Homo sapiens: one gene and its partners. The protein of the gene in region 4 interacts with the protein of the main gene of each other region in a pairwise test. Each region holds a gene or a part of one and is shown on either strand. Other genes may lie near its edges. The genes, in order: ZNF488, STMN3, CEP57L1, PKN1, SMYD3, SSX2IP and ZFP90.

The links.
Region 1: the proteins of PKN1 (region 4) and ZNF488 interact in binary tests that used the Homo sapiens proteins (3 or more experiments, as listed by UniProt).
Region 2: the proteins of PKN1 (region 4) and STMN3 interact in binary tests that used the Homo sapiens proteins (3 or more experiments, as listed by UniProt).
Region 3: the proteins of PKN1 (region 4) and CEP57L1 interact in binary tests that used the Homo sapiens proteins (3 or more experiments, as listed by UniProt).
Region 5: the proteins of PKN1 (region 4) and SMYD3 interact in binary tests that used the Homo sapiens proteins (3 or more experiments, as listed by UniProt).
Region 6: the proteins of PKN1 (region 4) and SSX2IP interact in binary tests that used the Homo sapiens proteins (3 or more experiments, as listed by UniProt).
Region 7: the proteins of PKN1 (region 4) and ZFP90 interact in binary tests that used the Homo sapiens proteins (3 or more experiments, as listed by UniProt).

Annotation. Positions count from the first base shown.
Region 1 is NC_000010.11:47,377,794-47,381,293, reverse strand, and holds part of ZNF488 (zinc finger protein 488), read left to right. Parts: intron 1-432; exon of another isoform or gene 433-1,786; intron 1,787-3,500. UniProt on the Homo sapiens protein: Transcriptional repressor. Plays a role in oligodendrocyte differentiation, together with OLIG2. Mediates Notch signaling-activated formation of oligodendrocyte precursors.
Region 2 is NC_000020.11:63,643,425-63,646,924, forward strand, and holds part of STMN3 (stathmin-3), read right to left. Parts: intron 886-3,500; coding exon 790-885; intron 508-789; coding exon 332-507; exon of another isoform or gene 235-331; intron 1-234. UniProt on the Homo sapiens protein: Exhibits microtubule-destabilizing activity, which is antagonized by STAT3.
Region 3 is NC_000006.12:109,102,007-109,105,506, reverse strand, and holds part of CEP57L1 (centrosomal protein CEP57L1), read right to left. Parts: intron 1-3,500. UniProt on the Homo sapiens protein: Centrosomal protein which may be required for microtubule attachment to centrosomes.
Region 4 is NC_000019.10:14,457,306-14,460,805, reverse strand, and holds part of PKN1 (serine/threonine-protein kinase N1), read right to left. Parts: intron 2,776-3,500; coding exon 2,666-2,775; intron 2,575-2,665; coding exon 2,431-2,574; intron 1-2,430. UniProt on the Homo sapiens protein: PKC-related serine/threonine-protein kinase involved in various processes such as regulation of the intermediate filaments of the actin cytoskeleton, cell migration, tumor cell invasion and transcription regulation.
Region 5 is NC_000001.11:245,853,280-245,856,779, forward strand, and holds part of SMYD3 (histone-lysine N-methyltransferase SMYD3), read right to left. Parts: intron 1-3,500. UniProt on the Homo sapiens protein: Histone methyltransferase. Specifically methylates 'Lys-4' of histone H3, inducing di- and tri-methylation, but not monomethylation. Also methylates 'Lys-5' of histone H4.
Region 6 is NC_000001.11:84,655,962-84,659,461, reverse strand, and holds part of SSX2IP (afadin- and alpha-actinin-binding protein), read left to right. Parts: intron 1-993; coding exon 994-1,144; intron 1,145-2,977; coding exon 2,978-3,114; intron 3,115-3,456; coding exon 3,457-3,500. UniProt on the Homo sapiens protein: Belongs to an adhesion system, which plays a role in the organization of homotypic, interneuronal and heterotypic cell-cell adherens junctions (AJs).
Region 7 is NC_000016.10:68,545,791-68,549,290, reverse strand, and holds part of ZFP90 (zinc finger protein 90 homolog), read right to left. Parts: intron 1-3,500.

The DNA of each region.
Region 1 (3,500 bases), on a different chromosome or scaffold from region 4:
TGTGTTTTAACTGAAGAGAAAAGCAGATGCAGCAAAGCACTGCTTGGGGGGAGCGGGTGGGGGTACATGGTGTCTCTGAATAAGATCTGGTGCCTGACCTGCAGCTCAGAACAGCTTGAGGCTGGCCAGTTGGCTTGGGTTAGGGAGTGACTTCAGACATCCCAGGAAAAAGAGGTTATCCAGATGTTTGCCAAGAGTTCTTTCTTCTGTAGGTGGAGCAGGAAGGAGAAAAATGCCCAGGCTGTTTGGTCATTTATTAAACACTGTTATGCACTGGTCCCTGAGAGCTCAGGAGTAATGGGAAGGCTGCCATGGAGTGGACTCTGTCCCTTTGCACTCAGTGCGATAAGAAGTGATACCCCTAATGTTTACTGAGCCAGGTTCCTTAGCACTTTCTCTATATTAATCCTTCTAATCTTTCCCACAACCCAGTGAAGAAAACACCAAGGTGACCCTCTTTATAGATCAGAAAACAGGCCTGGAGGGGACCCACGCCTTGCCCAAGGTCACAGGTTGGATACAGCAGAGCTGGCCTCCAACCGTGGAGCCCGTGCACTTAACATCTATTTGGATGGAAGGCTCGAAGGTTACCTGAGACAACCTGGTCAAGGTGATAATGTGGGAGAATGTGGCCAGTGGTTCCCAGATGAGTGAATGATCAGTGTGCAGTCACCAGAGGATGGGTGATAAACCGAGAACCACAAGCTCTTAACACTGTGGGGTGGGCGAGGCTTCATCTCCCAGGATGCAGCACTTGCTGAGTTGGGCAACAGGGGACCCTGGTTGATGGCCCAGGTTGGTTGGAAGCCTTTGGGAGATGTGCTCTGTGTTGGTGGGGAAGGCCAGGCATGGTTAGATCCCCTGTAGACTTGGGGAGCTCAGTTTCAGAAAGTTTCAAAGATCATCACTTGATTTCTGTGATTCACGTGATCTGAGGGCTCTGAAAGTGGTGGGTGAGTCCTGGAATTAAATCTGTTTTTTTCAAGTAGGAAAGACATGGGGTGGCAATGAGAGACATCTGTGTGGCTCAGAAAGATGTCTTGCTGAGGTCAGAGGGACAAGAGCCAAGGAGAACAAGAGGAGCCCTTCCCAGGACACTCACAATGACAGAGTGACGAGGGCCAGTAAAGAGTGTCAGGGGGTGAGAGCCCGGGTGTGAACTGAACCTACTGAGGAGAGCTGACGACCACAAAGCATCTTTTCATATCATGTTCGGAGCAAGGAGAACAAGGGCTTCATAGATCCATCGCCGTCTAGGGCAGCTGGTGTCTGTGAAGGGGAGGAAGGCACAGCTCCACTGTGCCCACAGCGGTCTGGACAGAGGAGGATCTGCAGGTGCAAAGGGCGCAGGCAGGTTCCCGGAGGAAAGCAGGAGCCACGTAGCGTGGGCTGCAGTGTGTGTGCTCAGGGCTCTGACCAAGAGAATGCCCTGGCCAGGGTATAGCATGACCTGGAATGAGATACCCCCATCTGAGGTGCTGTCTGAGAGGTGTTGGAAATGAAGCCCGGAGGTGGAAGAGACTCAAATCTGATGTTGGCCCTGGGAAAGATCCTAGACTAAGAAGAAGGCTGTGAGTCTGTGGGCAAAGGAGAGACGTGCATGAGGAGCTGGCGGGGGCTCCCTGGGGACAAGTCATGCCAGCCTCACGTCATTTTCCACCTTGCAGGTCTTCGGTCTGGCCCTTGTTCTGTTGGGGTTCTGGAGGACGTGCTGTGCCCTGGCCTTACTGACCTTACTCCATGCAGTGCTGATGCATGCGACAGCGGTGACCCTCCAGGGTCCCAGGTGGGATGAAAGGTCCCCAGCTAGTTCCTAGTTTCATCTCCTCATTTTCTCCATCCTCCTGCTCCTTCTTATTAAGATCTGGATGTTAACATTGATGGAGTGTGAAGCTGGGTGGGATATTTAATTCAGCAGTTGGCGGTGTCAGGATCCACAGTGGTCTCTGAAAGCTGAGATGCTGCCCTGAGTTTATCGGGATGGCATTTGGCAGATTGGAGATAAGTGCATCTGAATTGAGACACATAGCTTCCCTCATATGGTTTTTATGAAAATGAAATGAACAAGGTGCCTTATTTCATTTGTTAATACTATTGTTTGTCATGTAGATACTTACGTAGCCGATAAATGGTAACTTCTATTCTGATACCCTGAAGCATCCTGATAGCAAATGTTCCATCCTGCTGTAAAGGAGAACTGGTTTCTTCCAATTAGTCATACATGAGTAGGTCTGGGATGGCCTGGAGAGACAGCTTAGCCAGAGCGCATTTTACAGATGGAAACCTGAGGCTCAGAGAGGTTGAGTGCTTTGCTCGGGAACACAGAGAGGAGTGATGTTTCTGCCTCTGCCTCTTTGGGAGACACTGGCCGACATTCACCTCTGACGTCAGGCACCCCCTCTGAGGAATCCACTCAAAAAGGGCATCAGGAGTGGTGTGGAGCCTGCTGCACCACGTGGTTTGCGTCCTCTTCATGAAGTCACACGGGGTGGTCTGCAGGGCAAGGCGGGGTGGCGATGTTCCACAGGAGCTAGTCAAAAGCTTGTGACAAAAGGGAACGTGAGGTTTTATGTTCACTTTTCTTGCTTTCTCTCTGATTTATCCCATGCTTTCACTCCATGAGAGGGTTGGGCTCTCTGTCTCATCTCCTTGAGAGCTCCTGCAGGAAGTGGCTGGACGCAGGTACATCCTTTCATGGCTGGGCGGGAAGCAGGGAGAGGAAGAAGCTGATTTGGCCCAGGCTATATTTATGCATAGCAAGCCATGGAGGCTCTCATCCACTCCTAGATTCTCCCTGAGCCCTGGGATAAATATTTTCTAAGGATGAGAATTCTGGAATGCTGAGTGGAGTCTGGTTCTGCCAGTACCTCTCACCAGTGGAGGGGGCACTTGAAGAGCTTGAGTTCTAGTTTCCAGAACTTGAGGGTGGGGCTGGTGAGAGCGGGTAGGGATGAAGGCATCCCAGCAGGGCTGATACCACCTCCCCATGGGTGCCACCTTTACATGTGGTCAGTGCATGTCTTCCCTTCCACACCGTGGGCACTTCCAGGGTGAGGCTGAAAGCTGGTCCATCCATGGAGGTCCAGTTTGGCACAGGCAGGCAGTTCGCGAAGCTCTGCCAGGGGAGCAGAGAAGCGAGTGGATCCATGTGTGGGGAGAACCAAGAGTGAGCACTTCTGGCGAGTGGAGATGAGGTTACACATGCTCTCTCTAGGGGCAGGGCCAGGTGGTGGGGTGGCAGCCCCTTAGTGTGGGGGTGGGGGCCAGGCACAGCCAGACCCATCCTGCCAAGCCTGCATGTGCATTGCTCCAACTTTTGTCCTTCTGTGCACCTATGCCTACAGATCCCCTGTCCCCAGGTGCCTGAAGTGGCCTGGCACTCCTGAGGGTCAGGAGAAAAAATGAGTATGGCAACCAGCAAGGAAGGAAAACTGCCCTCAACCAGGGTGCAAACACAGTCGAATTAAGTCAGAGCTGGCAGGCAGAAGCCCTGTGTGCTC
Region 2 (3,500 bases), on a different chromosome or scaffold from region 4:
GTGTGCACCACCACACCTGGCTAATTTTGTATTTTTAGTACAGATGGGGTTTCACCATGTTGGCCAGGCTGATCTTGAACTTCCAACCTCAAGTGATCTGCCTGCCTCAGCTTCCCAAAGTTCTGGGATTACAGGCGTGAGCCACCACACCCGGCCTCTCCCCATCCCATTCTTATCTCTCAGAAAGAGGCCCAGGGAGCCACAGCCCCTCCTGCTCCAGGCCAAGGCACTGACCAAGCCTGTCCGGGAGCACCCTGCTTCTTGCAGGCCCTGTCCCCGTGGGCCGCCTCCGTTGAAACTCCTGGGGGGTGGGGGATGGAGGACTCCTTGCCTTCCTCCGCTCCTCGGCTGCCTCCAGCCGCTTTTGCAGCTCCTCCAGGGAGGTGTCCTTCTTCTTGGGTGGGGAGGAGAGCATAGGGCTCTCTGGGGACAGGTCAGAAGGGGACTTGAGGATGACCTCGAAGCTCTGGCCTGAGGCCCGCTTGTCCAGCTGCTTCACCTCCATGTCTGCAGGGCAAGACCAGAGTAGAGCTTCAGAGGCCCGGCCAGGGCATGGCGTGGGCTGAGCGGGATGCTCCCAGCACACATCCAACCCCAGGGCTGGGCGAGAGGGGGTGGCTGCTCCCGCAGGAATCCCAGGCTTCAGCCCCCAGGATGGGCCCCTTCCCCCTAGAACCTCCCTCTCCAGAGGCAGCCAGGACGGGAGTTCAGAGAGACTGCCGGAGGCCGGGGGAAAAGGTGAGGTGGGCAGGCACCGCAGGGAAGGGCAGGCGGCAGCCAGGCACTCACCCCCGTACTGGTAGACGGTATTGGGGTGCGGCTGTGTGTAGAAGCAGGAGCAGATGAGCGACAGCACCGACAGCTCCTTCATCTTCTCCTTGTAGGCTGTGGGCACAAGGCTGGGCTGAGCAAGCACCACTGGGGCCTGCCCACCTGGGCCCCCGTTTTCCCTCCCCATGGCTGCCTCTATCATGTCTCTGTGAGACACGGAGCTGCCCAGCACGCTCTCTTGTGTGTCTCCACACCGCCGGCCCCTTCGTCTCTCCAGCTCTCTCGCTTCCAGACGTCGGCACTGTCTCCGTGGTGTGTCCCCTGCCTTCTGTCTCTCTCGCCCTCTGCCTCTCCCCGCTTTTCCTCTCTCTCGGCATTAATGTCTGTCTCATCTTCCACACTGACTTGTTTCTCCATCCTTCTCCTGCCTGCTGTGGTCTGAATGTTTCCATTACCCAAAACTCATGTGTTGAAATCGTAACCCCAAGGTGCCGGTGTGCGGAGGTGAGGCATTCGGAGGGAATTAGGCCATGAGGATAGAGCCCTCCTAAGTGGCCCCAGAGTGGGGCTTCAGAGAACTCCCTCACCTTCCATCATGTGAGGACACAGCCAGAAGACGCCACCCGTCTATGTACCAGGAGGCGAGACCTCTCCAGGCACCGACTCTGCCGGCACCTTGATCCTGGACTTTCTGGCCTCCAGAGCGATGGGAAATAAGTTCCTGTCGTCTATAAACCACTCAGTCTCAGGTACCTGCCCAGACTGACAAAGTGGCTACCCCTGCCTGTCTGGGTCTCTGTTTACCTTCTGTGTGTCTGACTCTGTCACTGTCATTGTATCTTTCTGTGTCTCTGGGGGTAGCCCCTGACTCTGTCTTTCTCCCTGAGTGCATCTTTCTGTGATTCCTTGTCACTGTGTGTCTTTCTGACTCTTACCTCCCTCTGTCCCGCTACTTCTCTCTCCCCTCCTCCTCCTTCCCACTCCTCGCCAGCTCAAGCAGGCAAGATTTACTCATGACGGGACCAGCACAGATGCAAACCCTCTGTGGGCAGGACTTTCTTGGGCTGTAAACCTGGATGAAGCCCTCAGACCCTCCTTTTTCCTTCCCAATGATTGTGTGGTCACCTTGAGATGAAACCAGGCCCTCTCCAGGCACATGCTCTCTGTCTATCTAGGGCTGGGCTTGGGCCACTGATGCCACCAAGGAGCAAGGGAGGGAAGCTGTCCGTTCAGCACCACAGCCAGCCCTCTTGCCCATTCAGGTCAATCAAGTGCCCACCAGCCAGTGTCCCTGCTGCCCAACCCAAACCAGAAGCAAGCCGGGCTCCTGTGGCCCTGTGCCCTGTCAGGGGAAGAGGAAGGCGCCTGCTGTCACAGTGAAAATAATTTAGCTCTTTTGGTCTATTCAGGGCGAACCTCATTCCTAAGCAGACACGCTGGCCCGGTTTCTCACTAGTGCTCGATAATCCTTTTGGCTGGGTGCAGTGGCTCATTTAACTGTAATCCCAGCACTTTGGGAGGCCAAGGCAGGTGGAACACCTGAGGTCAGGAGTTTGAGACCAGCCTGACCAACATGGTGAAACCCGATCTCTACTAAAAATATAAAAATTAGCCAGGCGTGGTGGCAGGCACCTGTAATCCTAGCTACTTGGGAGGCTGAGGCAGGAGAATCGCTTGAACCTGGGAGGCGGAGGTTGCAGTGAGCCGAGGTCGCGCCATCGCACTCCAGCCTGGGTGACAGTGTGAGACTCCGTCTCAAAACAGAAAGAAAAAGAGAGAGAGGAAGAAAGGAAGGAGGGAGGGAGGGAGGAAAAGAAGAAAGGAAAGGAAAGGAAGACAGACAAGGCAGAAGTAATCAAGCCTTTCATGGTGAGCTGGGTCTTCTGGTGACAGTGCAGAGAATGGTCTGTCCTGACTTAAATTTCCTGGTGACCTACACTTTTCTGGACAGAGCAGCACAGAGCCCAAGAGGGTGTAAGGAGGAGCAGAAAGGAATCCCAGGGTGGGCAGGCCCGTGCGAGAGCCTTTGGGGGAAGGAATGAGACTTTGAGCCGGGAAGCGAGGCAAAGCTACCTGTCTTGGTCATTGTCTTCAGGGAGGGAGATGGAGGGGGACCAGGTGGGGGAGCCTCACAGGGGACTTTGGTCTGACTTGTCAAGTTTTCTTTTTTTCTTTTTGAGATGGAGTCTTGCACTGTTGCCCAGGCTGCAGTGCAGTGGTGCGATCTCGGCTCACCGCAAGCTCCGCCTCCTGGGTTCACACCATTCTCCTGCCTCAGCCTCCCGAGTAGCTGGGACCACAGGCACCGCCACCACACCCAGCTAATTTTTTGTATTTTTAGTAGAGACGGGGTTTCACTATATTAGCCAGGATAGTCTCGATCTCCTGACCTCGTGATCCGCCCGCCTCGACCTCCCAAAGTGCTGGGATTACAGGTGTGAGCCACTGTGCCTGGCCTACTTTATTTTTTAGAAACAGGACTGTGCTCTGTTGCCCATGCTGGAGTGTAGGGTGCAGCTGTGCGGTTCACTGCAGCCTTGAACTTCTGGGCTTGACGGATCCTGCCATCTTAGCAGCTGGGACTACAGGTGCATGCCAGCACACCAGTTTTCTTTTTTTTTTTATCTCTGCTCACTGCAATTCCGCCTCCTGGGTTCTAGCGATTCTCCTGCCTCAGCCTCCCAAGTAGCAGGGATTACACGCACATGCCACCACACCCGGCTAATTTT
Region 3 (3,500 bases), on a different chromosome or scaffold from region 4:
TAAATAAACTTTTACATATGTGGGAATTTGGTATATGAAAAAGAGGGCATTTACATGGAGAAAGGATTGGCTATTCAATATTCACTATGCCAATATTCACTATACAGTGCTATCCACACGGTAAAATATAAACATATATCTCTACTCCATGCCAAACACAAAAATAAATTCTAGCTAGACTGAACATCTATACGTGAACAACAAACCTTTGTTTTAGAAGAAAATATAGAGTACGTTTCAGACTTTGGGTAAGAAGAGATTTCTTAAAACAAGACAATTTACAAATAAAAAAGAAAAAATGATAAAACTATATAAAAATTAAAATGTCTGTATAACAAAAAACATCATTGATGATATCTTTAAAAAAGAAACATATATAACATAAAAGATTAGTATCTGAAATACAGAAACAAGTTCTATCCTATAAATTATTAAGAAAAACACAAAGGTCAATTAACAAAGGAACAAAAGGTACAATGGAAGTTAAAAGACAAGAAAACACGAATAGCTAAAAGGACAAAAACGTTCTACTTCATTGATCAGGAAAATGCAAATTTAAACAATACAGAAATTATTTTACACCCATTAGATTGAAAAAAATTTTAAAAGAAGCCTATCAGGACCCAGTGCAGTGGCTCATGTCTGTAATCCTAGCACTTTGGGAGGCTGAGGTGGGAGGACTTCTTGAGCCCAGGAGTTCAAGATCAGCCTGGGCAATACTGTGAGACCCTGTCTCTACAAAAAAAAAATTTTTTAATTAGCTGGGTGTGGTGGCACACACATGTGTTCCCAGCTACTTGTAGGGCAGAGGTGGGAGGATCGTTTGAGCCCGGGAGGTTGAGGCTTGCAGTGGGCTGTGATTGTGCCACTGCACTCTGGTCTGGGCAACAGAGTGGGATTCTGTCTCACAAAACAAAACAAACAAACAAAAAACAAACAAAAAAACACGCCTATCAATATTAAGTTTTGTCAAGGATGTGGGGAAATGAAAATTCCCATGAACTGCCAGTGGGAGTGTAAACTGGTAAAACAAAACATAACTTGAAAAATGTGATCCTGTGTATATCCTATAACTCAGCAATTCCACTTCTCCGAATTTATGAGTGAACCCTAGAGAAAATGGCACATATCTGGACATATGTATAATGATGTTCACTGCTGCACTGATTGCAACAGAAAAAAATTTTTTTTTTAAATAAATATACATTAATAGGGACTGGATAAATAAGTTGTATCATATTCATACAATGAAACACTATACACCAGCTAAAATTTGAAAACAAGATCTACATTTAGCAACACAGATAAGCTCTGAAAATATATTGTTGAGTAAAACAGAAAGTAAGTTACAGATAGTAAGATATCTTCTATGTAACATTTTTTTAAAAGACAAAGACAATATATGACTGTGCCAAGAGCACTTTCACAACCTATGTGATATTTCATTTCATTGAAAAAAAAAAAAACAAAAACTAAAGCAAACTAGGTAAAATGTTAACATTTGTTCATTCCAAGGGGTAGTTTAAAAGGGTATTTATTTTGTTACTCTTATTTTTTGTTTGAAATATGTAATGCTTTTAAAAATGACATATAATTTTAATATCTTACCCCTATATATGTATATATTCATGTAAAATGTGGATAAGGAAAATAAGTAGAAAAATAAGAATAAAATCAGTAGTGAGACTGGTTTATAAAATTCATATTGTATGTTGCGTATATTGCTAGAGCTCGCTCACAAATCTTTCAAGAAGAGCAAAATGAAAATAGATTCAACAATTATTGGTTTTTAAAAATCTATCCATTAATATATGTCAGAAATACTAGAGATTTAGTCATTCAAAGCATACTATAGTAAATTTGGAGACACCAAAAACAGAAAAACTGGAGAAAATACTGAAGAGTAAACTTGATTTAAGTGGTTTACTCATTTATTCCTGAAAGATGGAACCAAAATAACATAGAAAAAAGGGGCATGGTATTCTGAGAATAGTATGTATGACAGTGTTTCAGAAAATATGTTTTTGAAGGGCTGAAAAGAATATCATTCAAATCAATCTTGTTAAGGAATTCAAATCGACCTTGTTAAGGAAAACTTAAAAATAAAATATACAGATTCAAATTAAGAGCCTTTATGATTCATTTGGGCAATACACATATACCCCACACATAAAAGTACACATATAGTACTTGGTTGACAAGACATTTTTCAACAAGCCAAAAGAAAAACTAAGGAAGCATTTAGAGGCAAAACTGCTTATGCTACTATACAGTAAATAATTAGTATAATTTCCTTTAAAAACTTAAGTTGAAGTCAGTTATCATAGAAAGAGATATTTTAAGTTTACATGGCTTCAGTGTTTCATTGTAGAGAAGGGTCAAACTATTGTGGAAAAATCACAGGTTGATTTTTGCAACCTTGTAAGACTAGGCAAAAAAGTAGCAAAAAAACAAAAACAAAAACCAGCAATGTAGACAAGTAACAAGGTAATTCAATTGGAGAATAATATTCTTAATTGTAGAAAGTCTTCCTAACAATTTTCACTTACAGCACTCAGCCAACTGCACATGCTGACAACAGATAACTAAAATGGAACTGTTAGTCCGGTTTCCTGATACATTCCAGATAAAGTTCTCCCTGGCCTCATCTTTAGGCTGACTTCAGGTCTCTCTCTCAAGGAACAGTTTTGAAGAATGGCACCAATATAGTTGTACAGATTCAGTATAATGGTCTTTAAAAAAAAGTTTTTCACCTTTTAATATTATTGATCAAAATAATAATTTCAGATCCAGCAGAAACTTTTTAATAAAAACATAAATCTAGGCACAGACCTTATACCTTTTACAAAAAAAAAACTAAAAAATGGATCATAAACCTATATGCAAAACACAAAGCTGTAAAAGTTCTGGAAGACAGGAGAAAATCTACATGACCCTGGGTATGGCAATGACTTTTTAGCTACAACACGAAAAGCATGATACATGAAAGCTGGACTTCACTAAAATTAAAAATTTCTGCTTTGCAAAAGACACTATTAAAGAATGAACAGACAAGCCACAGACTTGGAGAAAATATTTACAAAATGCAGGTCTGATATAGGACTTGTGTGTCCAAAATATACAAAGCACTCTTAAAACTCAATAGTAAGCTGAGCGTGGAGGTGCATGCCTGTAGTTCTAGCTACTTCGGAGGCTGAGGCAGGACTGCTTGAGCCAAGGGGTTTGAGGTTACAGTGATCTATGAAAGCAACACTGCACTCCAACCTGGGTGACCTAGGGAGACCCTGCCTCTAAAAAACAAAAACACTCAACAGTAATAATAATTTAAAAATGGACAAAAGATCTGAAAAGACACCTCACCAAACATGATACACAGGCAGCAAATAGGCGTATGAAAAGATGCTCAACATATGTCATTGGGGAATCACCAATTAAAACAATAATGAGATACCATTACATACCTATTAGAACAGCTAAAGTCCAAAACACTGATACCACCA
Region 4 (3,500 bases):
ATAGAGATAGATAAATGGATAGATGGATTAGATAAATAGATGATATAGATACCTAATATAGATGGATACATAGATAAGACAGATAATATAGGTGTATCTATCAATGGATAGAGGATGCATTGATAAGATGGCTGGGCCGGGCGCGGTGGCTCACGCCGGTAATCCCAGCACTTTGGGAGGCCAAGGCGGGCAGATCACGAGGTCAGGAGATGGAGACCATCCTGGCTAACACGGTGGGTGAAACCCCGTCTCTACTAAAAATACAAAAAATTATCCGGGCGTGGTAGCGGGTGCCTGTAGTCCCAGCTACTCGGGAGGCTGAGGCAGGAGAATGGCATGAACCCGGGAAGCAGAGGTTGCAGTGAGCCAAGATCGCACCACTGCACTCCAGCCTGGGAGACAGCGAGACTCCATCTCAAAAAAAAAAAAAAAAAAAAAAGATGGATGGATGAATGCATAGACAGACAAAATGGATGGATGGACACGTAGGTGGGTAAATAATAGATAATATGTGTGTGTATACATATATAGGTAATCTATCATATATATATGTAAAATGGGGTACACATATAGGTTAGCGGAAGATTAAAAGAGTTTTTTAGGATAATTTGGCTAAATGAGGGGTCAAGTGCCCCTTCTCTGTGCCCCAGTTTCCTCCTCTGTCAAATTTGAGTAATAACAGTCCCTCTTTTGTTGGTTGGTTGTGAGAATTAATGAGTTCACGTCGCCAAAGTACTCGCTACAGAGCCTGGCTTATACTATGAGAACTCAGCTAGAAATGTCATTTAGACCAGGGGTTCCCGGCCAGGGAGCACTTGACAGTGTCTGGAGACCTCTGGGCTGTCAAAACTCAGGGGGAGGTGGTGCTACTGACATCCTGTAAGCAGTGGGGAGAGGTGCTACATCCTCTAGTATGCAGGACAGCCCCACCACAGAGGATGATGTGGCCCCAGATGTCAACAGTGCCAAGGGTAGGCCACCTCAATTCAGACCTTCACCCTCACACAGCTGTGGAAGGAATCACTTTCTCTTGACTGTGGCTCTGGTAGCAATCACCACGATATGTTGCCAGGTTTTGTATCTCTTTCCTGGTTGGAAGAAATTTTATAATTTATTTCCTTTTTTCTTTAAACATTTCTAAATTTGGAAATCAGCTTCTTCTTCTTCTTTTTTTTTTTTTTTAAGTATCTTGCCTCAGAACAAAACCAATCCCAGCTAAGGTCCTATCACTGATGTGGCTAATTAGAAGTGCTTTTCTTCTTCTTCTTCTTCTTTTTTTTTTTTTTTTGAGACAAGAGTCTCACTCTGTTGCCCAGGCTGGAGTGCAATGGCGTGATCTCAGCTCACTGCAACCTCTGTCTCCTGGGTTCAAGCAATTCTCCTGCCTCAGCCTCCCAAGTAGCTGGGATTACAGGTACCCACTATCATGCCCAGCTAATTTTTGTATTTTTAATAGAGATGGGGTTTCACCATGTTGGCCAGGCTAGTCTGGAACTCCTGGCCTCAAGTGATCCACCTGCCTCAGCCTCCCAAAGTGCTGGGATTACAGGCGTGAGCCACCACACCTGGCCAAGGTGTACTTTTCTATCAAGGTTCAGAGACAGATCTAAAATGTATCTTCCCCTTCTAGAATACACGGGTCTAAAACATACCTGCCACTTCTGAAAGAGCCTGATCTAAAACTATCTTTCTGTATTAAGAGAAACCATATCTAAAACATATCTTATGCTTCTAAAAGAGCCTGATCTAAAATGTATCTTCCCCTTCTAGAACAAGCAGATCTTTTTTTTTTTTGTGAGACTCCTGGGCGACAGAGTCTCACTCTGTCGCCCAGGCTGGAGTGCAGTGGTGGGATCTCAGCTCACTGCAGCCTCCGCCTCCTGGGTTCAAGCGATTCTCCTGTCTCAGCCTCCCAAGTAGCTGGGACTAAAGGCATGTGCCACGACGCCCAGCTAATTTTGTACTTTTAGTTGAGACGCGGTTTTACCATGTTGCCCAGGCTGGTCTCCCTGACCTCAGGTGATCCTCCTGCCTCAGCCTTCCGAAGTGCTGGGATTACAGGCATGAGCCACCACGCCCAGCCTAGAACAGGCAGATCAAAAGCCTATCTTCCCTTTCTAGAAGAGCCTGATCTAAAACATATCTTTCCCTTCTAGAAAAAAGCAGACCTAAAACGTCTCTTCCCCTTCTGGAAGAGCCTGACCTAAAACGTATCTTCTCCTTCTAGAAAAGGCAGAGTTAAAACATATCTTCCGTTTCTAGAAGAGCTGGATCTAAAATCTATTTTCCTCTTCTAGAAAAGCCTGACTTAAAACTTATCTTCCCCTTCTGGAAGAGCCAGACCTAAAACATATTTTCCCCTTCTAGGAAACTGGGAATGGGGCAGTGAGGGAGAAGAAGCATTTTCTCAGGGTCAGGTGTGGGCTATACCTCAGCCACCAGGCAGCCCTGGGGTTCCATGTCCAGCTGCACCTCATGCCTCTCATTGTCCAAGAAATCCTCCAACTTCAGGAATTTGAGGGCACACAGGCCCCGCTGGTCCCGCCAGAACACAGCCAACTCCAGTTCCCGTGCCTGGAGGGAGAGGAAGAGGGCCATCACTCAGGGTGCCAGAGGCATGGAACCCCTCCTCCTCTAGGCCCTGCTGTCCTCCAACGCAGCTCACCCTTTCCAGCTCCAGAGTGAAGCTCTGGTCCCAGGCATTGGGGCCACATGGCTTCCAAGACGTCTGCCCCACCACTGTGTTATCCAGCTTAAGCACAGTGCTGACTTCACCTGAAATGGGAGAGAGGGCCCAGTCAGAAAATGCTGGCAGTAGCCAGACAAGGTTGCTCATGCCTGTAATCCCGGCACTTTAGGAGGTTGAGGCAGGCGATCACTTGAGGCCAGGAGTTCAAGACCAGCCTGGCCATCATAGCGAAACCCCGTCTCTACTAAAAATACAAAAAATTAGCTGGGCGTGGTGGCACGCGCCTGTAATGCCAGCTACTCGGGAGGCTGAGGAAGGAGAATCACTTGAACCCAGGAGGCAGAGGTTGTAGTGAGCCAAGATCGTGCTACTGCGCTCCAGCCTGCGTGACACAGCAAGACTCGGTCGAAAAGAGAGAAGAGAAGAGAAGAGAAAATAAAAACGGCCAGGCACAGTGGCTCATGCCTGTAATCTCAACACTTTCGGAGGCTGAGGCAGGTGGATCACCTGAGGTCAGAAGTTTGAGACCAGCCTGACCAACATGGTGAAACCCCATGTCTACTAAAAATAAAAAATTACCCAGGCGTGGTTGCACATGCCTGTAATCCCAGTTACTCGGGAGGCTGAGGCAGGAGAATCCCTTGAACCCAGGAGGCAGAGGTTGCAGTGAGCCGAGATCACGCCACTGCACTCCAGCCTGGGCAACAAGAGTGAAGCTCCATCTCAAAAAAAAAAAAAAAGAAAAAAAAAAAAGAAAAAGAAAGAAAATCCTGGCAGAAAGGGGCATGTCTATTATCTTTTTCTTTTTTTT
Region 5 (3,500 bases), on a different chromosome or scaffold from region 4:
CCAGCCTGCCCTCTAGGAATGAGCTTCGTTGTCAGAGACAATGACACAAGCGTCCTCAGAGAGCAAGCTAACAACATCTGAGCAACAAGGAGAGATGCGGGATTGGGAGAGGCAGACCCAAAGCAAGCGCTGGGTATGTGACGGCATCGAACGCGCGCTCAGGTCCTCCCACTGTAATACGCACCTGGGATGCGGGGTCAGGAAGGCAGGCCCAAAGCAAGCGCTGGGCGCGTGGCTGCACCAAACGTGCGCTCAGGTCTTCCCACTATAACATGTACCCGGCAAGCTCTGCAGACTCCTGTACCAGAATGTCACACTGACAAAAACCCATGAAAGAACAACTGGAGTTCTTCAGAAAAGCCTGCTTGAAAACAGTAGAAGGTACTGTTATGAGGAAATCTCATAGTTTATCAACCTATCTTCCAAACCTTCTCAAAAAAAGGAGAAAAAAAAAATCCCCCGCAAAATTAAAAACGAATGGGGCTGCTATGTAATTAACTGACAATCTCTCAGTTACAAACCCCTGATTTGTAACCATGGCAGGTACACAAACTACCAGCTGCATTATACTTCCACTCTCTCCACCTGCCCCCATTTTTTCTGACAACAAAGCACAGAAAACTATCTGAGCTGAAATCTCACTCTTATCAGCTTTCTTCTCCTTGATGGAGATTTCATAGCCCACCTCCCTTGCCTCTTTCTCTGATCACAACTTAAGTCTCTTCATCATTCTTGTTCTTCTGCCTTTTTCCCAGGTACGTCACAAAAGTGTCATTCCCACCAGCACAAAAATACTATTTATGGACAACAAAATTAATATCAACAAATCTTACCCTATAATGTGGGCTTTGATGAAAGAAGAGATGAAGGCCCTAATACGTTTTGAAATGGCTTTAGATCAGAAACAACGGAAGTCAACGTCATCTCTTCTCATATTTTCTTGAGGAAAGAGTGACATTTTAGTGTGTGTGGTGGGGGAGGTACAATTTGGAAATGGTTATCCAAATTTAAAATAAATATAACTTTCACTTTAAGAGCAGGGGGACCTAACTTTTGATGTACCAAGTTACCACTTAGGAATTTCTCATGTGGATTTACCCTATGGATTCAATTAATCATGGCACTGTTTGACACAGTACACATAAATGGAAACGACAGAGATTGATCTAAAAATTATGGCATATCCATGAGATGAAATACTATGTATCTGTTAAAAAGAATAAGGTAGCTAATCTGGAGCTAATCTAGACAGATGTCTACACTCTCTTGTAAAGTGAAAAAAGTTACAGAACATGGGCTAGGGAGTTATCCTTTTCTCTCTCTCTCTCTCTTTTTCCCGCACACTAAGGAGGACCTTTGGCTTGGCTTCCCTTCCTTTTCTCTAATCCCCACTCCTCCATACACCACCTCAGCAGGCATATTTAAAAGACCTATTGGAAATGAGTCTTTCCCCCAGCAAGACAAGCAGGAAAAACGCAGAAGTGCAGGAGAAAGTGGAAGAGCCCACGTGAACAGTTCTGAAGGGAAGAGAGTTGAGAGTAACTGGGAAAGCAGAATAAAAGGAATGGGGGAAGCAGGGCTTTAAAAAAACATTCTGTGTATTATGATGGAACCATTGTTCATGTTTTCTGGCGAAGGTTAGGATTACTGTTTACTTTCAATCCTCTGACACCATGCTAAGACGGAGGTCTATCTGGCTCTGGAATATATTCAGACCGGCCACTCTCACACGGAACATTTCCAGAAGGAAACTTTTAGCCATGTTTATCTTTAAGGAGTGGGACAACAGTTTGAAGATGAGGCTGATTTTTACCTTTCTGTCCTCTTAAATTGTCCTTCCCTACAAGCATATGTTAATCTCGCAACAGAAATGAACAGAACGGGCGAATGTCCTGAAAGTCCTCTTCAAAGCCGGAAACACCCTCTATATCTCCTTATCACTCTCTAGTTCCGAAAGAAAAGTCAAATTTAATTAATATTCGACGCACAAAAATTTTAAAACAATGTGCTCAATTTTGTATTTTTCTCTCCGTTTTTAGGGGCTGGGGGGGGAATTTATAGCCCATACAGTGGTGCTATCAAAGGCTGAGTAGACTTTCATGGGTTAGTCTGGAGACATCACCATAATCTGTAACCATCTTTAATAGGAAAATGCATCCCAAGTTCTGAACTACTAATTGGCGAATTAACATTAGACTAAGTTAAACTTTTAAATAAAATTTATGAAGTATTTTAAAATTATCTTCATTCTACTTCCTGTTTACAATGCTAAGGGACAGATGAGTTTCCATATTAGTCACATATATATGCCGATACTATCAGAAGACATACTATGGGCTAATACTAAACATTATACATTTTGTTGTATGTGATTTCTAACTTGTTTTATGAAACATGAAGGATGTAATGTTGAGTTGCGTCATAAAAACTGAGTAAAATCTATTGAGTAAAAATAAATGAGAGTAGCAAGAAGGGAGCTGAAGGCCATAATTTGGATTAAAATGGAATAGCAGCACTTTCTCCTCTAAGGTCAGCAATTAAAATTTAGCCAAGGTCAGGAGTGACAAAATCATCAAGAAAGACTTGACCTCCATCTAGTTGTTGCAAACAATATATTAACATTGTAAAACTGTTACAGCAGATGGCAATGCAATCATCCCTTGGTAACTCATGCCTAGCTAACTGTCTGTGTCCTTGGCTAAAGGTGAGCAAAAGGCCCACCTCCTGCGTCTGCAGGGAGCCGATGCGGGGGGCTGAGAGCACTCAGTGTGAATTCCCTCATGCACATGTGAGAGGTGAAAACCACTGCCAACTTCTCCATTCCTGCCTTTGTTCCAAAATTGCTAACAGGGTTGCAGGGTACCTGACCTATTTGCATACATTCCTTATTTTTACCTCTGCCTGAGCTAAAGGGGAAAAAGGCAAAGTATGACAACATCTAACCTGCCCATTTCTCTCAACTTTGTTGGTTCTGGTTTATTTATAGCCTTTTCCTCAACTACAGCTTTAAAAGCAAATGATTCGTACCTCACTCATGTGAAGTGGATCAATGCAGATTGGATTTCTTGAAATACCACCAAAAAGCAACTCAACACACGCCAGGGAAGAGAAACCAAGGGAGGCTTGGAAATTTGTCACCCAGCATAAGAACACAGCACACACTTAAAGAGATTGTGACCTGCCAAACACCATGTAAATATAACCAAACGTTTCCCAAACATAATGGACTGTATTCTGGTGGAGGACTTGGCCTCACTTACAAGAAAGGCCTCTTTGTTTAAAGTCAGTCAAACTGCCAGCTACTTAAGGTGTAAGTTAGTGCCTCAAAGAGGCCCTGGTAGATGTGGGGAAGAGAAGGTTGCAAAATACGTGCAGAACAGACACCCGTGTAGGTGTGTGGTCTTCTTTATGGATGTGGTGGACCCATGTAAAGTTTCTGTGCTTAAGAGTGGCCCGAGCAGGGCAGCCTGAGTGTCGAAAGGGAGGATGAGGCAGAAGAA
Region 6 (3,500 bases), on a different chromosome or scaffold from region 4:
AAGAGAAGCTGTGCTTCCTTGGAAGAGTTACTGGCAAGTAGCTTTTGAGTATTGGCAGGGGCTAGAATCACCATGAGCCGGATCCTGGGCCATTCCCCTGTCTGCTCCGCCTCAGAGACCCTGACCTCTGCTAGCCCATTGCTGACCTCAACTACTGATAGAGTTCTTCAGACTCAGTTGCTCCCTCATCCTGCTGATCTCCATGTGCGAGCAGTCGAATCAGCCCTTCTTTCTTTTCATCTTTTATCTTTCTTTTTTCCCCAGCAAGATTTTTATTGTTCAAATTAGTGAAGTATATCTCTCTGCCTTCCTGAATATTAATGACAAATTAGAACTACTTTATGTAGATGTGGGTTATTATGACATATATCCCTTTTAGTATTGTTTCCCCATGTTCTTTATCCTGCTTTGATTCTGTGTGATCATATATCAGTAAAGTTTGCTACTTCTTTATGATTTCATGTTTGGCAGAATACAAAGAAAAGTATCTCCCGTTATATAAAAAAGTATATGAGGAAAATAGAATTAACAGTTGCTTTTATTAAATACTTCAGAGATTATTTCACAAGTGCATTTCTTTAAGCAGCCTAGGATTAGAAACAAGTTGATCTAATGTCAAATATCAGTTCTGCCTCTTAGTTGTAATGCTGCTTCTCTAAACCTCGGTTTTCCCACATTGTAATGAGCTGAGGGTTAAATAACGTGAAAACATCCAACACATTAGACAGGTAGTGATATCTCCTTCTCAGACAGCTTCATGACTCTTGTCATTAACTGTATTTGGATTCAAATTCAGGTTTAGAGAGAGCTGAATTTAGGAGTCTCATTTTTTTTCTCAAGACATTTAAATACTGGGCCATATATGCATAAGACACAGCACAGAAATGATTTTGATGTGGCTTCCTCTGGTAATCAAACTGAAGACTACTTGCCTGAGCATCTAAAGCCATTGTAAGGTACTAGCCTTTCCTCTTCATCTCTCTCCGCTTGTAGGTTATTTCCGATGTTGAAGAAGATGCCGGGGAACTAAGCAGAGAGAGTATGTGGGACCTTTCCTGTGAAACTGTGAGAGAGCAGCTTACAAACAGCATCAGAAAACAGTGGAGAATTTTGAAAAGTCATGTAGAAAAGCTTGATAACCAAGGTAACCACTGCTTCTATGCATGTAAAGTGAGTTGTGACATTTGGTAAGGTGTTGATTTTTAGTCACTTAGAAAGCCGCATTATAGGCTCAGAGCTAAAGTACTATACTTCAGTTTGGTGGTTTGAAAGCAAGATTTTGCATACATTTATTTTTTCATTTTATTTTATTTTATTTTACTTTTTGAGACAGAACCTTGCTCGGTCACCCAGGCTAGAGTGTAGTGGTGCCATCTCGGCTCACTGTAACCTCCGCCTCCCAGGTTCAAGTTATTTCTCCTGCCTCAGCCTGCTGAGCAGCTAGGACTATAGGCGCACATCATAGCCAGCTAATTTTTTGGTGTGTTTTTAGTAGAGATGGGGTTTTGCTGTGTTGGCCAGGCTTATCTTGAACTCCTGGCCTCAAGTGATTCACCTGCCTTGGCCTCCCCAGAGTGTCTGGATTACACGTGTGAGCCACTGTGCACAGCCGACATTTTACATACATTTAGATGTGAGGTTTGAACCTCACTGAGAAAAATACACTTTGGTCTCAGAGTGAATGTTTGAAAAGAGGACATCATGGATCCATCTGCTCTGGATGCAGTATACAATCAAATAAAGATAACTGAGTTGGGATAAAAGACTACACATTGGGTGTAGTGTACACTGCTTGGGTGATGGGTGCACCAAAATCTCAGAAATCACCACTAAAGATCTTATTCATGTAACCAAACACCACCTGTTCCCCCCCAAAAAGAGAAAACTGAGTCTCTTTTACTGACTCTCAAAAATCAAGAAATATTTATCGTAGTATAGATAGGAACATTTTGCTTATTTCTAGATGCTTGCAGATTACTATGTTCCTAGTAATTCACTTAAAATTATTTTTAAAATAATAGATGTTTAATGCAAAATATTAATTTGGAAGTATATAAAGTAGAATATCCTGGTCTCTATTCCATACATATAACACTTAACAGTTTGGTGCATATTTTTCTATACTTTCCTCTATGGATTTGAAAGATACTTACTTTTTTTTAAATTTTAAAAATTGAATATTACCTATATTTTTCTTTAGTGTGCTTTTTTCACTTAACTATTATCCTTATACATAGCTCTACATTGATGAATATATTCTTAATATTTTCTGCTTGGTAAAGTTTGAATGCTTTTAAACTAGGAAAATGAAGATTTCTGCTCAGTAAATGAAGCCTATTTAAAGAAAAATTTAAATTGTCAAAATATGAACTCAGTGCCATTGTGTTAAGTATTAGTAAAGAGCAATCAGCAAAATTATTATTACAGCACCAAAATGAATCTACATGAGATTTTGTTCATTTGAGTCAATGCTGTTTATTATCAAATAGCAAGTATGTTTGGACTTCGTATTTGTTGAATTTAATATTTGAGAGCAAGATTTGTGACACTTCATTGATCTTTGAAGCAGTGTCAACAAAAACATGATTTTATTTTTCTCTTCTCTGAATATGGCCATTTTGTCTGTTTTTAATTAGGACATAATCATGAATAAATATGGATTACAAATTGTTGGCAATAGAGCTCTGTTTGTAAGCATATCATTTAGTCTTAAAATTGCACAAATGTGTAATTGTCGTCATGAACTCCTGTAGTTGCTTTGCTTAAACATTTTTTATAATGTTAAAATAATATAAATTTAATTTTGTTATAGCTTATGAAATTTTAAAAAGTCAAAGGACGTAACTACTTTTTAGAAAACCTATAAAATTCTAGAAAGATAAAAGTTCTGAGAGCCCTTGTTTTAAAGATATGTGCAAAACACTGTAAACTAAGTGGTGGCTATAAGACCTATGTCAACTTACTGATTTTGTCTTAGTTTCAAAGGTACACCTGGAAGGTTTTAATGATGAAGATGTAATCTCACGACAAGACCATGAACAAGAAACTGAAAAACTCGAGTTAGAAATTCAGCAGTGTAAAGAAATGATTAAAACTCAGCAACAGCTTTTACAGGTGAATATGAATTACCTTTTAAAGCTGTTCTCCATGAAAAGCCAGAATTGTGCTGAACCTTACCAGATTTGTATTCCTTTATTTCATAAGGCCCTGGTATTTGACAGATTTCTAGTCTGTGTTCCCTGCTAACAGATACATTGTGTACCACTCCTTAAATAGTCCATACTTTGCTAGTTGGGGTAGTAGGTTTCGGGAAATGAGAATTCTCATTTGACTTTTTGATTCTTAATAATTTCTATTCCTGCCCTGAAGTTTGACTGGCCTTCCCTTGCTTTCATTTCAACTCGTTGGAGTGTCGCAAGGTCCCTCAGGAACTTACTATGTTTTAAATTTTAATAGCAGCAGCTCGCTACTGCATATGATGATGATACCACTTCACTATT
Region 7 (3,500 bases), on a different chromosome or scaffold from region 4:
CTTGCCCAGCATCTTTTAAAAGCTCCTCAGGTGGTTCATTATCAAAGAGCAACAGCTCAGATTTCTTGAACACTCGCTGCTAGGCAAACACTAAACTCAGTCATTTACGTGCACTCTCACCACATTTCCTCACTGAAGCCTTGTCACCACCCCAGAGGAAGCAGGCACCACTTCCTGACTGGTTCTGAAGCATGACCCTGGTTAAGAACCACTGCCTGGCATAGAGCAAGCATTCCAAACACGTCTGCTGAGTGAATGGATACAGAATCTGGGTAATTCTCAATGCAGGAAAATGAGGAGTTGTTTCGAGGATTAAAAAAAAACACATGGGTTAGTGAATTAAATTCTTGGATTATAAAAAACAGAGGCAAACAGAAAAACGATGGCATTAACAGCCAAATCTAAGGCTGGTTCCTCTTAAGCACCAGCCAAATAGAAAAACCTCTGATAAATCGAGTAAGAAGAAATTTTTAAAAGATGAACTTAAAGATAGGAGGATAAGGCTGGGCACAGTGGCTCATGCCTGTAATCCCAGCACTTTGGGAGGCCGAGGCGGGCGAATCACCTGAGGTCGGGAGTTCGAGACCAGCCTGACCAACATGGAGAAACCCCATCTCTACTAAAAATACAAAATTAGCCGGGTGTGGAGGTGCATGCCTGTAATCCCAGCTACTCAGGAGGCTGAGGCAGGAGAATTGCTTGAACCTGGGAAGCGGAGGTAGCGGTGAGCCGAGATTGCGCCATTGCACTCCAGCCTGGGCAATAAGAGCGAAACTCCGTCTCAATAAAAAAAAAAAAAAAAAAAAAAAAAAAAAAGGAGGATAAACAGAACAGTGAAATATACACACTAGTGTGTTAAGAAATGCAAAAAATCTTAACAAAAAACTTTTAAATTCTAAACTACCAATGTTTACACAAAAAAGCAGAAACCTTTATAATTGAGGAGGAAATAGAGAAAATTGTTGCCAAAACATCTTGTCTATAAAAATCCTGAGTCTAAATGTTTTATAGGTAAATTCTTTCAAAAGACAGAAAAAGGTGAAAAGCAATCTGAATGTTTCTACAAATTAAGGATAAGCATGACACCAAAACCCATCCAAGAGAGTGCTTTCTCTCTGGTGGCTATTTCCCTTAGTAATACAGATATTAAAAAATGATCAACTGGGCCGGACACGGTGGCTCACACCTGTAATCCCAGCACTTTGGGAGGCTGAGGCAGGTGGATCACTTGAGGTCAGAAGTTCGAGACCAGCCTGACCGACATGGTGAAACTCCATCTCTACTAAAAAATCAAAACTAGCCAGACATGGTGGTACACGCCTGTAATCCCAGCTACTTGGAAGACTGAGGCAGGAGAATCGCTTGAACCCAGGAGGCAGAGGTTGCAGTGAGCTGAGATTGCCCTCTAGCCTGGGCAACAAGAGCAAAACTCTGTCTCAAAAAAAAAAAAAAAAGAGAGATCAACTGTATTTTGAAAAACTTATGTATTACAACCAAGTGGAATTTTATCCCAGCATTATGTATAATAGTAAAAATTTCAGAAACAACCTAAATGTTCTCTGAGAAATGGCTAAATAAATTTTGGTACATTCATACAAAGCAATATAATATAGTCATTAAAACTGATTTTAAACAACAACAAAAATAATCCTCATAAAATTTATATGAAATTTAAAATACATTGTAATTAAAAATGTTTAAGGGGAAAAATATGCATAAGGAGAAAAGAAAATTCACCAAAACAAATACAGAGGTCCTAAGGAAGAGGGATCATAAATGACTTTTTTCTATTAAAAAGTCTAGATTATTAAGCAAGTAATACCCAGAATATATAGAGAACTCCTAAAAATCCAACAAAAAACAATTCAAAAATGTGCCAGGAACTTGAATAAACATTTCTCCAAAGAAGATACACAAAGATGTTCAAGAACACTAATTATTAGAGAAATGCAAATCAAAACTACAATGAGATATCACCTCACACTGGTTAGGATGGCTACTATCAAGATAAAACAGAAAATAACAAGGGTTGGGGGGATGTGGATAAATTAGAACCCTTTGTGCACTGTTAAGAATGTAAAAAGATACAGCTGCTATGGAAACAGTATGGTGGTTCCGGAAAAAAATTACCGTATGACCCCGCAATTTCTCTCTGGGTATATAACCAAAAGAATTTAAAGTCAGGTCTCAAAGAGATATCTGTACCCCCACGTTCAATAGTTCAATGCCTCATGTTCATGTTCAGTGCCATAGCAGCATTATTCACAATAGCTAAACATGTAAACAAAGCAAGTGTCTATCAATGGATGAATGGATAAGCAAAATGGAATTGTATTTAGCCTTAGAAAGGCTTTTATTTTAAAGCACTGTATTCAGCCTTTAAAAGAAAGTTCTGATATATGCTACGACTTAGATGAATCTTGAAGACATTATAATAAGTGAAATAAGCCAGCCACAAAAAGATATACTGTGTGATTTTGGCCAGACGTGGTGGCTCACGCCTCTAATCCCAGCACTTTGGGAGGCTGAGGTGGGCAGATCACTTGAGGTCTGGAGTTCGAGACCAGCCTGGCCAACATGATGAATCCCTGGCTCTACTAAAAACACAAAAATTAGCTGGGCGTGGTGGCGCATGCCTGTAGTCCCAGTTCTCAGGAGGCTGAGACAGAACCGCCTGAACCCAGGAGGCTGAGGATGCAGTGAGCCGAGATTGCACCACTCACTCCAGCCTGGGTGACAGAGCAAGAATCCGTCTTAATAAAAAACAAAACAAAACAAAACATACTGTTTGATTCCACTTATATGAGATAGAGTAGTTAAAATCATAGAGATAGAAAGCAGAATGGTAGTTGCACGGGCTGAAAGAAGAAAGAATGAAAAGTTATTGTTTAATGGATTGTAGAGTTTTCAGTTTTACAAGATGAAGAATTTTGAAGATGGGTAGTGGTGATGGCTGCATTACATATGAATGTATTTAATACCACTGAACTGTACACTTAAGATTGTCTTATGTGTATTTTATCAAAATTTATAAAAACTGACAAAGATTATATCAAAGGTAAAAAGTCTCTAATATTATATATGCTCACATACTTTAATAAAATATACTTTGTTTTGAGTCAGAGTCTTGCTGTGTCGCCCAGGCTGGAGTGCAATGGTGCAATCTCAGCTCACTGCAACCTCCACCTCCCGGGCTCAAGCAATTCTCATGTCTCAGCCTCCCAAGTAGCTGGGATTACAGGCGTGTGCCTCCACACCTGGCTAATTTTTGTATTTTTAGTAGAGATGGGGTTTCACTATGTGGCCCAGGTTGGTTTCGAACTCCTGGGCTCATGCAATTCGCCTGTCTCGGCCTCCCAAAGTGCTGGGATTACAGGTGTGAGCCACTGTACCCGGCCATAAGATATACTTTAACAAAAGTAATACAACACGGAAAAGTAAGGAAAAGAATCTTATTTTTGAAACAGTTATTTTTTGAGACGGAGTCTCGCTCAGTCACC